2 linked regions of the Homo sapiens genome follow. The protein of the gene in region 2 interacts with the protein of the main gene of each other region in a pairwise test. Each region holds a gene or a part of one and is shown on either strand. Other genes may lie near its edges.

What was found. Proteins that work in one complex are often made in the same cells at the same time.
Region 1: the proteins of MAPK9 (region 2) and LNX2 interact in binary tests that used the Homo sapiens proteins (3 or more experiments, as listed by UniProt).

Annotation. Positions count from the first base shown.
Region 1 is NC_000013.11:27,575,530-27,582,529, forward strand, and holds part of LNX2 (ligand of Numb protein X 2), read right to left. Parts: intron 6,275-7,000; 5' UTR 6,175-6,274; coding exon 5,768-6,174; intron 1-5,767.
Region 2 is NC_000005.10:180,233,071-180,240,237, reverse strand, and holds the end of MAPK9 (mitogen-activated protein kinase 9), read left to right. Parts: intron 1-250; coding exon 251-314; intron 315-1,834; coding exon 1,835-1,906; intron 1,907-3,706; coding exon of another isoform or gene 3,707-3,711; coding exon 3,712-3,854; 3' UTR 3,855-7,095; downstream 7,096-7,167. UniProt on the Homo sapiens protein: Serine/threonine-protein kinase involved in various processes such as cell proliferation, differentiation, migration, transformation and programmed cell death.

The sequences.
Region 1 (7,000 bases), on a different chromosome or scaffold from region 2:
TGCCTTACTGCTTGAGTTGTGACATCTCATCTCCTGCCCTCAGACTGGGATCACTGGCTCTCCTAGTTCTCAGACCTTCTGACTGAGAAGGTCTGAATTATGCTACTGACTTCCCTGGGTTGCCAGCGTGCAGAGAGCAGAACGTGTAATTTTTCAGACTCCTTAATCATGTCAGCCAACTCCTCATATATTGGTTCTATTTCCTTACAGATCCCTGACTAATTCATTAGTGAAAATGAAGCTGGTATTCATTTAAAATAGACTGCTATAAACTAGGATGTTAATTGTAAGCCCCAGGGTAACCACTAAGAAAATAATTTTAATTAAGAGAAATGACACGGGAATTAAAATAGCATATTAAAAATATTTAACACAAATGGAAGAAATGGAGGAAAAAAGAAATAAGACATATAGAAACAAACAGCAAAATGGCAAATGTAAAGCCTACCTTATCAGTAATTACATTAAATTACATGAATGAAACATCCCAATAAAAAGTCAGTGACTGGCAGAATGGGCTACAAGAAACATAATCCAACTGTCTACAACAGACACACTTCAGATTCAAAGACATAAATAAAGCAAAAGACAGAAAAACATAACAAGATATGACAATTATAAACAGAAATTGTACCAAACAATGGCCCCAAAATACGTAAGTAAAAAATGACAAAGAGAGAAATAGACAAATCAACAATAAAGCTTTTGATACTCGACTTTCAATACTAACAGAACAACTAGACATGGAACCAGAAAATAGACCCTTTAACACTATAGACCAATTAGACCCAATAGACATATGGAGCACTCCATCCATTAACAGCAGAATTTACATTATTCCCAAGTACACACAGGACATTTTCCAAGACAGGCCATGTGCTAGGCCATTTTAAAAAAGGCCTCAAGGCTGGGCATGGTGGCTCACGCCTGTAATCCTAGCTCTTCGGGAGACCTAGGTGGAGGATCACCTGAGCTCAGGAGTTTGAGACAAGCCTGGTGCAATATGGCAAGACCCCGTCTCTACTAAAAGCACAAAAAAAAAAAAAATTAGTTGGGCATGGTGGAGTGCGCCTGTAGTCCCAGCTACTCGGATGCTGAGGCACAAGAGTCACTTGAACCCAGCAGGTGGAGGCTGCAGTGAGCCAAGATTGCACTGCTTCACTCTAGCCTGGGTGACAGAGCGAGATGCTATCTCCAGAAAAAAAAAAAGAAAAGAAAGGCCTCAATAAAATTTAAAGGATTGAACAATACACATTATGATTTCTCATTGCAATTAATTCCAAATGGATCAAAAACTGAATTATAAGAGAGAAAACTAGAAAACTCTTAGAAGAAAACGTACATGTAAATTTTTGTGACCTTGAATTGGGCAATGTTTTCTTAGATATGACACCAAAAGCATAAGCAAACAACAATGAACTTCATAAAAATTAGATATTTGTTCTTTAAAGGATGTAGGAAAGTGAAAAGACAACTGACAGAATGGGAGAAAATATATGCAAATCATATATCTGGTAAGGGTCTAGTATCCAGAATACATAGAAAATTCTTACAACTTAGCAAAAAGACAAATAATCCAATATAAAAATGAACTAATGATGTTGAGCATGTCATGTGCTTACTGGCCACTTGAGTATCTTTGGAGAACTATCTATTCAAATCCTTTGCCCATTTAAAATTGGATTTATCTTTTCATTTCTAAGAGTTCTTTATATATTCTGGATACTAGAATACACATGATTTGCAAATACATATATCTGCTTTTTCACACCATACATGAAAAAACAATACTGATAAGAATGTGCTAAACACAAACTTCCCTCCAAGTTAAAGTGTGAATTTAAAAGTGCAATCATGCCTCAGCCTATCCTGATCCCTTTTTTTTCTATTTAGTTTTTCCTGGACCATCATCTAAAGCAGGGTTGTCCAATCTTTTGGCTTCCCTGGGCCACACGGGAAGAAGAATAATTGTCTTGGTCCACACATAAAATACACTAACATCAATGATAGCTGATAAGCTTAAAAAAAAAATAATCCCAAAAGCCTTCCTGGGCTGCATGTGGCACAGGCTGAACAAACTTGAACTTAAGGTTTCATAACCATCTCATGAACAAGAAAAGTTCTCAGCAAGGAAAGAGGCTTCTTTAAAGGTTTTCTATTGTAAACTTTTTATAATGGCATTAAACTGTAATTTTTAAGAGGAAAAGTAATTCTGAACCTTGCCATAAACTAGGGCACAAACACACAATTTAAAAACAACAACAACAACTAGCACTTACAATTACCAAAGGCTTAAATGTTAAATCGTTAAGGGTGGGTTGGAGATGAGTGGTAGAGCGTAGGAGGAATGCTATATAGCTGATGTTGCTTGGCAGAATTTCAAAGAAACAATCAAAATGTTACATATTTAGTACAACATGTAGAATATTTTTCAAAGGCTTTATTTCTCTGTTCAAAGATAGAGACTGTCCATGTCTCTTAAAATTCTTCATTTCACTAATACATAATCAGTTAAAAATAGCAGTTTTATTTAAACATGTTCATCTTTCATAAATATTTTATCTGTAGGAGAAAAATGTTTGCTCTTCTCAAATCAAAACACATTTGTTAAGGGCAGGATTTCATTCAAATAGGAAGGTGATCTTAAATGTGAAATTATCAAATTTATGCAAACTACTGCTAATGCTCTATTTCTACCAATAATTAAGAGATTCCTGTAAACCCTAAAAGCTCAAGAGCAAAGGCACATGACAGCCATGCAACTTTTATACAATGACTCTTTGTTGCTGATGCTAAAATCTTATGAATTTCAATGAAACTTACAGACTTACCAATTTCTAACAAACAAGTGAGATTTGTATACCGAGAAGCCGCAAACAGTCGTAGTAATCATATTCTGCGCCGCATAACATCATTCTTCTTGCTAGTTTATGTTGGTTTTAGAACATGGCTGCAAATTTTTTTGACTTCCCATCACAAGGTGAAACCTATGTCCCCTTTTCCTTGGATATGGGTGGGTTTATGACTGCTTCCAACAGAGAAGGGATGCCAGGCAACTTCAAGGCTAGATCATATGAGGCCATGCAGCCTACTAGACACTGAACCACTTATGTAAGAACTTTAAATACCCTGAGGCTGTCATGCTGGGAAGGCTACCTGTAGCCTCTCCAGCTGACAAGTCCCACGCACCTAGTCATTCCCATCAAGGTGTCAGAAATGTGAATGAAGAAACCATCTTGGAAGTAGACTCTCCAGTTACAACTGTTGCAGTCCCTGGCTTTCAGCTCCTTCCCAGCTGTGGCACACATAAAGATAGCAGAGACAAGCCATCCCTGTTTCATCCTGTCTGCATCCTGACTCACAGAATCAACAAATGCTTGTTGTTTTATGTCAGTGTGTCTGGGGTGGTTAGTTTCTCAGCAATGAATAACTGAAACACAGATCAACAATTTAATTGGACTAACATGAGATGACTGTCAACTTTGGGCAAATAAACTGAAAGACTATAAAGACATGGTTCTGTTTCTAAAGGAATCTACAACCCGGCATTAGATTCTAACTTGCAGAGACTACCTAACACCTAGAAAAGTATCTGGCACATAGCAGATAATCAATATTTGCTGAATAAACAAATGAACTATATTATTTAGGGTTGAATGTTGTATAATATACATTTCTACCTGAATTTCAATGTTCTTATTTAAGAGAACAGAGAAAGGTCAGGCTGTTCATCACTATCTGTTCAAATGGCATATAAAAATCATATTACATTTTATAATTTTTTTACATTTATATACTCAGTAATCACTCTTAGCTGTCTGTATCAGGCAAATCACCACCTTTTCCAATCATCCATCTTTTCACTGTATCTTTCATGTTACAGGCCTAAGATACTTTAGAAATGATAAAATTGGTTACTTCAATACTAATAAGCACAGCTGGAAAATGAAACCTTCAACTGGATAAGCCTTTACCAACATGTAAATGAAAAGGCAGTTTGCAATTACCAAGGTTTTTTACATTCTCATTATAAATGGTTTGATAAGAAACACTAGTAATAGTTCAACTGCAAATTAAATTCTTGAATGCATGTTAAAGGAATATTCCTGAAAATCTGTGAAACTGTTATCTTTCAGCTCTCAAAATCATAAATAACTGAACTGACATTTCATTCAGTTCCTCTAACATCTCATAACTGATGTTTAGAAAAGAAGCCTATACACTGAAAAGAACAGTTCTACTGAAAGAAGCAGCCTGAAATATTCTTCAGCCATAACTAGTCCTGACTCAGACTAGTATATTCAAAAGACCAGTGTCAGTTTCCAGGAGGCCTCTGCCATCATGTTCAGATTCTATGCTTGCTGGTTACAGAAGATATAAAAAAATGCAATGCTACATTATTACACGCATTTTCAAAAGTCTGTCTATCCTACTCTATCTTACCTCCTAGTTCTAGACAACACAGTTTAGAGTTAAGCATTCTATAAATCTAAATGTTTCCAACATTTTAATAACATCTTTGTTTTTTTCATTGTTTCTCATGTCTTAACTCTGATGTTTAGAAATAAATATCAACAATATATTGATACAAAATGAATGTGTATTTCATGTGCACATGAATGAAACTTTTGCTACATAGCAGCAGAGAACATGACTTGACCTACGATAGAGTCAACATGGTTTATTAGAATAGTAAACAAGAACAGTAAAGCTTGAGTCTAACTACAGCATTAACTAAATTTTTGTGACTCAGTCTCCTTATTCATAAAATGAGGGGGATTAGATAATCTCCTTCAAGTCTATGATTTTATGTGTGAGTATAATAGCAAGCCATTCTATATCAGACTTACACTCTTACATCTAAGTCCAGTATGATGTAGTATGCATTGTTTTTCACAGCAATCGAGATTACTGCAGATTTATACTGTAAAACTGGCTTAACTTGAAATTAGAAACCAGTATTTATTTCTGCCATTTTATGTGATTCTACACAAATGACGTATACTGTAACTCTTCCTAAGTTAAAGATCAAGTCTTTTAGCAAAATCAAATTATAAAACTCATCAGCTAAATAAATTACTTAACCTTTTAAAAAGCTTTTATGAGAACAGAAATCCCCACTAAATATTTAGTTTTCCAACTCCTAATTCTTGTTCAGTCTAGTCCCTGAACCCAGAATCTTTACAAGATCTTAGCAAATAAAATAATGTATTTATTTCCATATTGCAACAAAATTATCGTTTTTATTGGCTGCATAATATCCCACTGAGTTTATGTGCATAGTATTTTTTAACCCTTCCCTACTTTTAAATAACTGATTCCAATTTACCAAACTATGCACAATGTTGCACTGAACATATTTACATACAATTTTTCCTGCTTTTAGATTATTTCCTTAGGATAATAAACTAGATAAAAGGAGATTTACATTCATATAGTTTTTAAAAACAAACTGCCAAACTGCTTTATAGAAAGAATCTATCATAATATCCTGTCATCTATTTGAATATATCAGTTTCATATTACAGCAGCAGAAATATTAACAGGTATAAAACAGTACTTCCTCACTGTAGTTTTTGTATTCATGTTTTTGATAAATAATGTTAAATACTGTTCCATACAACTTATTTATTGTATCTCTTCTGTACTTGATTCACCCATTTACTTACTAGTGCTCTGGTTTGTTTTGTTTTAATCAAGTTTTTATGTTCATTTGAACCACCTTTTTCCAAAATCTGGAGTTACTTCTTTTATATTTTTTGCTTACCTGTTTTTGAGATGTGCCTCCAGATCACAACGTTGCATTACATCTTTGCACACTGAAGAAAATGGACATAAAACTAATAATTTGTCTAGGAGTTTATGAACTAGAATACTAGACTTCTTGCACAACTTAAAATGAAGTCTTTTCCGGTCCAACGGACAGAAATCTTTCTCTTGTAAAAAGTTTCTGAGGCACTTGTAGCAGAATGTATGTCCACAGGGTGTGTCTAGTGGCTGCAGCAGAGGTTGAAGGCAAATATGGCAGACTAGGTCATCATCCACTTCATTCTGGTAATTGTACAAATGGTTTTCTCTTGTCCAGTGCTGTTGGCCACATTCAAAACACAGGGGGTTTAGAGAAGAGGAGGAGGTCTGTTCCACAGACACCATCTCATCACTTGTTGTTCCCATTTTGAATCAATTCTGTATCCTCATGTGTTAGACTTCCACTTCACGCTTGGTTTCCTTTAACAGACAGTGATGTATCTGACTAAAGTCAAGGTGTGTTTTTCTAGATAAGCAAAACAAACACATTAAAAAAGGTAATTAATATCAATCAAGATAGGTTAAAAGTATCAATGTAATATTACTGGTTAGCTTTTTTTAGTAAAAAATTAAAGGTTGAATCAGGTAATAAATTAGTCATAAAAAAAGAAATTAATTTTCTAGTTGGCTAAGAAGGACTTACACTGCCAAGTTCTTTTTTATTATAAGTTTTAATTGTCTCTTTTGATTTTTTTATTTATTTGCTTTTTGAGTCAGGGTCTTGCTCTGTCACCCAGGCTGGAGTGCAGTGGTGCAATCTCAGCTCACTGCAACCTCTGCCTTCCAGGCTCAAGTGACTCTCCCATCTCAGCCTCCCGAGTAGCTGGTACTACAGGTGCACGCCACCATGTCCTGTTAATTTTTTTGTATTTTTTTGTAGAGACAGGGTTTCCATGGTGGAAAGCCCAGGGTGGTCTTGAACTCCTGGACTCAAGCAATCAGCCCTCCCAAAGTGCTAGGATTACAGGTGTGAGCCACCGTGCCTGGCTCCCACTGTCAAGTTCTTGATAAAAAAACAACTTTTGATGAAAGGTAAAGACACCATAGATTATATAGTGTGACATAAGAAACAATCGATTTGTTTTACTGACTGAAATCCCCAAATATGTCACTGTTCAATGGTAGTTTTAAAGCCAATTAATTGTGCTAATAGTAATGCTGTTTGAGGTATATAATACATTTGCATGTCATC
Region 2 (7,167 bases):
GTCTGCGTTTTGAGGTCAGGTGATTATTAAGAGGAACATAATAACTCTTCTTTGGTTAACTTTTTCATAATTATTTTGATTCTAAAGTTGATATAATATCACATGACAAATCTTTATTAAACCACGTGTTGAATTAAACTAAATCCATATCATAAATAGACTAGAAGTCTTCCAAGCAATTTTACCTTTTTTAGTGCCTCATTTTTTTTTGAGGCATTACTGTTGACTTTACATATGATTTAATTTTTAGCCACCACCTCAAATTTATGATGCCCAGTTGGAAGAAAGAGAACATGCAATTGAAGAATGGAAAGGTAAAGATGGAGCTTATTTTGATCCTTCCTTTTGACATTTCTTCCAATCCTGTAGAGCAGAGGCTTTTCATTTTGTGACATTTCCCTTCAGGAAGGGGCAAGAAACCCTGCGACCCACTTAGCCTCTTTCTCCCCAGTTTCCAGTAGAAAATGAACTTGAAGAGAACAGAGTTAGAGAGGAACATTTATGAATTTCTTATCATTTGCTTCAAGAGGGAAAAATAATATTTTTTTCATGGCTTTTCACATATTGATTTATAAACTGAGCTTAGTAATTGTATCATACTTATATTGATTGATATGTTTTTAAGCCATGTAGTTGTACATATGTTTTAAAATCTAGTTTGGGGGAAATTGCAGATTGAAAATATGCAAATAGGTATTATTACCACTATAAGATTAACCAAACAACCCACAACAAACTATACCTGTAATGAAGAGGTTGAACTAACAATTTTTCATTAAGAAGCAGGATCAGTAGTAACTGAGAACCACAGTCAGAGTCAGTCAACACTGATGAGGGTCATGCCCCAGGGCCATCCTGGGGTGTGGGAGTGCCGGTTACCTGTGTGTGCCCGTGCTCAGCAGTGCATGCACACAGCGTGCTCACTGGCCTCAGTCAATGCTCACTGGCCTCAGCGAATGCTTGCAACGTGCTAATGTTGGTTTATGAATACTGACATTTTAGGAATCCCTCATCACTTACTTCGTAGGTAATTAGTTTTTCTTACAGATGAAAGTTGAGGAAAACCGAAGTTGAAATTAAGAAAAGACTTAGGCCTGTGGATTCATTTCTGGCCAGTGTGGGGGGCTCCTAGCCCACATGTGGGTGCTGGTTACCTTTGGAGAACCCCAAGTAACCACATAGAGAAACATATTCAAATGGGTGTGAGAATATCCAATCCCCTACAGTGTTCTGTGGGAGCCACTCCACTTCATAAAGCCCCCTTATGGATCCAGAACCACCCTACATGTTTTGCTGCCTTACTAGTTGCATTGAAAAAGATGTAATGTAGTCCAGGCGCAGTGGCTCACACCTGTAATCCCAGGACTTTGGGAGGCCAAGTGGGGCAGATGGCTTGAGGCCAGGAATTCAAGACAAGCCTAGCCAACATAGCGAAACCCTGTCTCTACAAAAACTACAAAAGTTAGCCAGGCATGGTGGTGAACACCTGTAATCCCAGCAATTTGGATGGCTGAGGCATGAGAATCACTTGAATCCAGGAGGTGGAGGTTTCAGTGAGTCAAGACCATGCCACTGTACTCCAGCCTGGATGACAGCATGAGACTGTCTCAAAAAAAAAAAAAAAAAAAAGAAGAAGAAGAAAAGAAAAGATATAATGTATCAAAATATGAATATTTTGGTCCAGGTAGACTATATTACTGAATTGACTCTGTCTTACAATTAAAAATAACAAATCGCAATGCCTTTGTTCCAGTTGATTTGGAAGCAGAGTTTAGAGATACAGTGAAACTGTTTAGAAACTGATTAAGCATTTTAACTTGTATTTTTATTAAAGAGCTAATTTACAAAGAAGTCATGGATTGGGAAGAAAGAAGCAAGAATGGTGTTGTAAAAGATCAGCCTTCAGGTTAGTGATTGCTTTAATTGATTGTATGATATTTTTCTTTCCCTATTCAACTTTTTTTTTTTGAGACAGAGTTTCGTTCTGTCGCCCAGGCTGGAGAGCAGCGGCGCGATCTCTGCTCACTGCAACCTCCGCCTCCTGGGTTCAAGCAATTCTCCTGCCTCAGCCTCCCGAGTAGCTGGGACTACAGGCACGCGCCACCATGCCCTGCTAATTTTTGTATTTTTAGTAGAGACGGGGTTTCACCATATTGGCCAAGCTGGTCTCGATCTCCTGACCTTGTGATCTGCCCGCCTCAGCCTCCCAAAGTGGTGGGATTACAGGCACGCACCACCATGCCTGGCTAATTTTTGTATTTTTAGTAGAGACGGGGTTTCAGCATATTGGCCAAGCTGGTCTCGATCTCCTGACCTCGTGATCCACCCGCCTCAGCCTCCCAAAGTGGTGGGGTTACAGGCGTGAGCCACCGCACCTGGCGTCTTTCCCGATTCAACTTTTATAAATGGCAGCAACATGTGAAATGCCAGCCTGGCTAGCATCAGATTTAAAAACCGCTGTATGAATAGCCAGCCTTTTTGGCTTGTCATAGTGGTGGTGGTGGTGGATGACATTTTACTGATGTGCCAGGCACTGAACTTTGTTATAAGCATTTCTCTTTCATCTTTGCAATAACTGCTGTCACCTCCATTTACAGATGAAGAAATTGAATTTAAAGCCTTTTCAATGTTGATAACCCTTTGTACTGGTCCCACCCAAAATGCCAATCTAAGTAAAATGGAGTATGGTATTCTTTTTGAGAAAATTGTTGATATCATTTTCCCATTTTTCTGCTTGATCTACTGATCTTCATAGTGGTGGAAGCCTCTAATGACCAGGTAGTTGTATGATCATGAGACTCTGATATGAGTCGTGTTCACTTACGTCTGAAGGATTCTTCCTGTTTACTAAATGAAACGCTCACGTTATATCATTGTCTCTCTCCCACTCCCACTGGGAAGCATGCACACACATGTGTGCGGATGTGCAGAGAGCACAGCTTACTTTTTATTCTTGAATTTTATGTTCAACATGACGTATGTGTCAAGCATCTAGAGATTATATAACTTCAGCAAGAACTTAGGTGCTTGTTAACTGAGCACACACGTATGACTGCAGACGTCGATCTCAGAGAGTGCATGTTGTGTTTTTATTCAAACCAGACTAAAATATGGATAGTAGGAAGTAGGATAGTTTCATTTGCTTTAAAAGATTAAAATGTCAGTTTTCTGGAGTTATAAAACCATAAAATATACAAGGCCACTAATTTTTTTCCTTTTTCTGGTATATAGTCTTTATTTATTGCAAAAGATTTCTTTGAAAGTTGATGCTTTTTTTCCTGTAGATTTAGTGTTTATGTTATAAATTGTTACAATTCAAGTGTCTGGTGACACTGGAATCCTAGTCAGGCTTAAGCTTTTGTGATACTGCATTTTCAGATAAATATAGCTGTGTCCTTTTGATGTCTGCTTGAAAGCAGCAGGTATTTTTTAAGTAGCTAACATGATTATACATGGCCACATATATGTTTAGCTACTGAGAAAAAAAGAAGAATCTTGCAAGGAAAGACATAGGAATATGGGACTCTTGGCCCAAAGAAAGACTCAAGGAAAAGTTCAGAAAGTCCAGCTGACTGACTTCTTGTCTATACTCATAGTTAGGATTGGGAAACTGCAAAAGGACAGAGCCGAGAAATGGCCTGCAGTCTCGCTGCCTGGATTTGCAGCAATGTCGTGCCTCAGATTTTATTATATTTGGTTTTCTTAGCACAGATGCAGCAGTAAGTAGCAACGCCACTCCTTCTCAGTCTTCATCGATCAATGACATTTCATCCATGTCCACTGAGCAGACGCTGGCCTCAGACACAGACAGCAGTCTTGATGCCTCGACGGGACCCCTTGAAGGCTGTCGATGATAGGTTAGAAATAGCAAACCTGTCAGCATTGAAGGAACTCTCACCTCCGTGGGCCTGAAATGCTTGGGAGTTGATGGAACCAAATAGAAAAACTCCATGTTCTGCATGTAAGAAACACAATGCCTTGCCCTACTCAGACCTGATAGGATTGCCTGCTTAGATGATAAAATGAGGCAGAATATGTCTGAAGAAAAAAATTGCAAGCCACACTTCTAGAGATTTTGTTCAAGATCATTTCAGGTGAGCAGTTAGAGTAGGTGAATTTGTTTCAAATTGTACTAGTGACAGTTTCTCATCATCTGTAACTGTTGAGATGTATGTGCATGTGACCACAAATGCTTGCTTGGACTTGCCCATCTAGCACTTTGGAAATCAGTATTTAAATGCCAAATAATCTTCCAGGTAGTGCTGCTTCTGAAGTTATCTCTTAATCCTCTTAAGTAATTTGGTGTCTGTCCAGAAAAAGTCGATTTATGTGTATTAATTGGCCATCATGATGTTATCATATCTTATTCCCTTTTATGCTATGATTTATTCTATCTTTTGTATTTCAGAAGACATATAATTAAATCTATTTAATAAATAAAAATATATAGCTTTTCTTAGATTTGTGATGTTTGGGGCTGAGAATTATCACGGCTAAAACCAAGACACTTATGTGGACATCTTGTTTTCTTTAAACTGTCTTGTCTGGGATGATTGTACATTCAGCTTTACTGCACGATACAATTTTAAGTTTTGCTTAGTGCTGCTTGAAATCCTAGCTACCTTATCTCTTTTCTTCTTGGTCTTCTAGACTTCTTATGAATTTAAAATGCTACCTAGAACTTCACCTTCTTTATTAGGTGCGTAACACTCCATCTTAATTAAATATGATGGCAGATAGGTTCCTGCATCCATGGCCTAACGTTGGAGTGGAATTTTACAAAATGCTCACTAGAGATCACTGCAGTCATTTCCTAAGTGCTTCCTTTGCCACAGACTGGCCTGGGTCCTTTATTTACCTTCCCTCATTCACTTTCCCTCGGCCAATACCACGTTCTTGATTTTCTTTCTTCACTGGAAGAAAGCAGATAAACTCCTCTTTGGTCTGTTTTCAGAGGCCAGGCTGATTCAGATGCCTGTTGCTATTGTTGCTCTCCATTGTTGGGAGGCATTCCTTTTCACAAGAATGTTCTGGGAAACTCTTCAGAGGACGTGAAGGAAATACCCTGAAGAGTCATGATTAACTATTGACTATTTTCTGATTTAAAACTGCTCACCTGAAATTGATACTTTTAGACTTTACGATCAGTAAATTATTCAGAATTCATGAAGATGCTGAGTATGTTAAGTGTCACTGCAGGAACGGAGCTGTGGTGATCACGTTTTGCCTGCCTGTGCCCATGTCTCTTCCCTTGAGCTTATTCTGTTGCTGATTCATATCTTGTGTTCAATTATTTTGGAAGCTTTTCAGTCGACATTCTGTAGAGTGTGTTCTGAGGAGGAACTGTGATAAGAAAGTTTATTATAAATATTATGTAAAATATATGGCTCTCTCTGCACCAGTTATATCTTATTGGTTGGTCATATCACTGGAAACTGGAACCTTTGATTAGCAAAATTAATATTGAAATAAGAAATAGTTCTTTTATATTGTGTCATTTGGACACTTTCAAGTACAAAATGGTAATAATAACTTGGATTGAGGCGGAAACACCTATTTTATGGCTATCTATCTAAACATCTTAAAATGGCCTTCTCTGTAATACACTTTCTTTTAAAAGACTTCACTAAATCTATCTTTAAAAGGAAAAACAAAAGGGAGAGGTTGAAAATGCGCGAGCTGCCCTGCACTGTGTGATGCTCCCTCCCCGGGAGACGTGGACGGGGGACGAGGCACCCGCAGACGCCCTTCTGCTCACTCGCTCCTCTGTGCATTCAGCGAGCCACTTGCCACAGATGGAGCCCGTGACGGTGTGGAGGGTTTCCTGGAAAGGCCATCTTCCACCAGGTAGAGGCGAGCGTGCCTAGGACAGGCCACAGGGCTCCACAGAAATACCTCACCCCAGCTTCAGGGTTCTCTCTCCTGAGCCTAGATTTGCCAGGGTCTTGGTGCCACGCAAATGGTTTCAAACTGATCTCTATGGATAAATGCTGATGTTGGTTAAAGAACTGAAAAATGTGCTCAACTGTTTCATCTTTTCTATTTTATTTTTGTAATTTATATTGTACACAACCCAGGAAGTAACTATTTTGGACATGTATTTTTATAAACCAGGTAATTTACTATTATCCTGGAATTTAGACTAGGTTTGTTTCATTTGTTGACTTAGTTTCCAGCCAAGAAGGAAACGACTGTCTCCCCCATGTCCAGGTCTCAGTTTCAAGGGCAGAGTCCAGAGAGCAGACAGAGTTCTGTGAGAGCAGGAGAGCAGTCTGGAAACCCTGGCTGTGCATACCGTGTCAGCCGTGGGCCTGGAGATGGGAGCAGGTGAGACGCAGAGCCCCAGTACTGAGAGGAGGAAGCCCTCTTACAGGGCCCCTTGCCCACCCCAAGTCCGTGTCTGAAACACGGAGCGGGTGCTGCTTCAACCCGCATTTAATGCTGTGTAAGTAGCGATAACCACGTACGAGTCTGTCTGGTTGATTTCTAATGTGACTCCTCTGGTATTTCCTCCTGGTAATAAATACAAGTGTGACCTTTCAGATTGCATATCTCAAAAGTAACATTGCTAATGTTTTATAATAAAATATATTATGTGTGTTTTGGTTGGTGAAAATAATACAGACTACATTTTAAAAGATAAATGTATAGCATGTCCAATTTTTGTGTGTTTTTACATGGCAATTAGATATTTCTCCATCACCATCTCTGATGACAGATTTAACATGAACACAGATAGATGATAAAGTGTCATGCTTTTGATCAATATTAGCAAGAGGTTTCACACTGAGAGGCAGAAACATTGCTGTTTGTTCTCTTATTGAAAATATTCTGCAAATTCCTAAATCTGTGTTTTCAAAACTAATGGCAGTAAGTTTTGACTTCACCAATATGCAGGTCCAATTCAGAGTATTGGTGTAATTGTTTTCTCATGAGGCGTGGCCAGGAGAATTCACCAGTCAGCCTTAGTCATGTTACTTAACGTCATTCATGGTGCTTGTGGCTTTGTGCCTGGGATGAGCCAAGTTCATCTGACGTCTGTGTTTGAAGCACTTCAGGCTGTTTAGTACTTAATACCACAGGAGTGGAAGGACACTCAGTGGCTCACTTTCTTTTCTCTGCTTAAAAGGACTAGAAGCATTCCAGAGAGATGAGTACCAGCTGTGT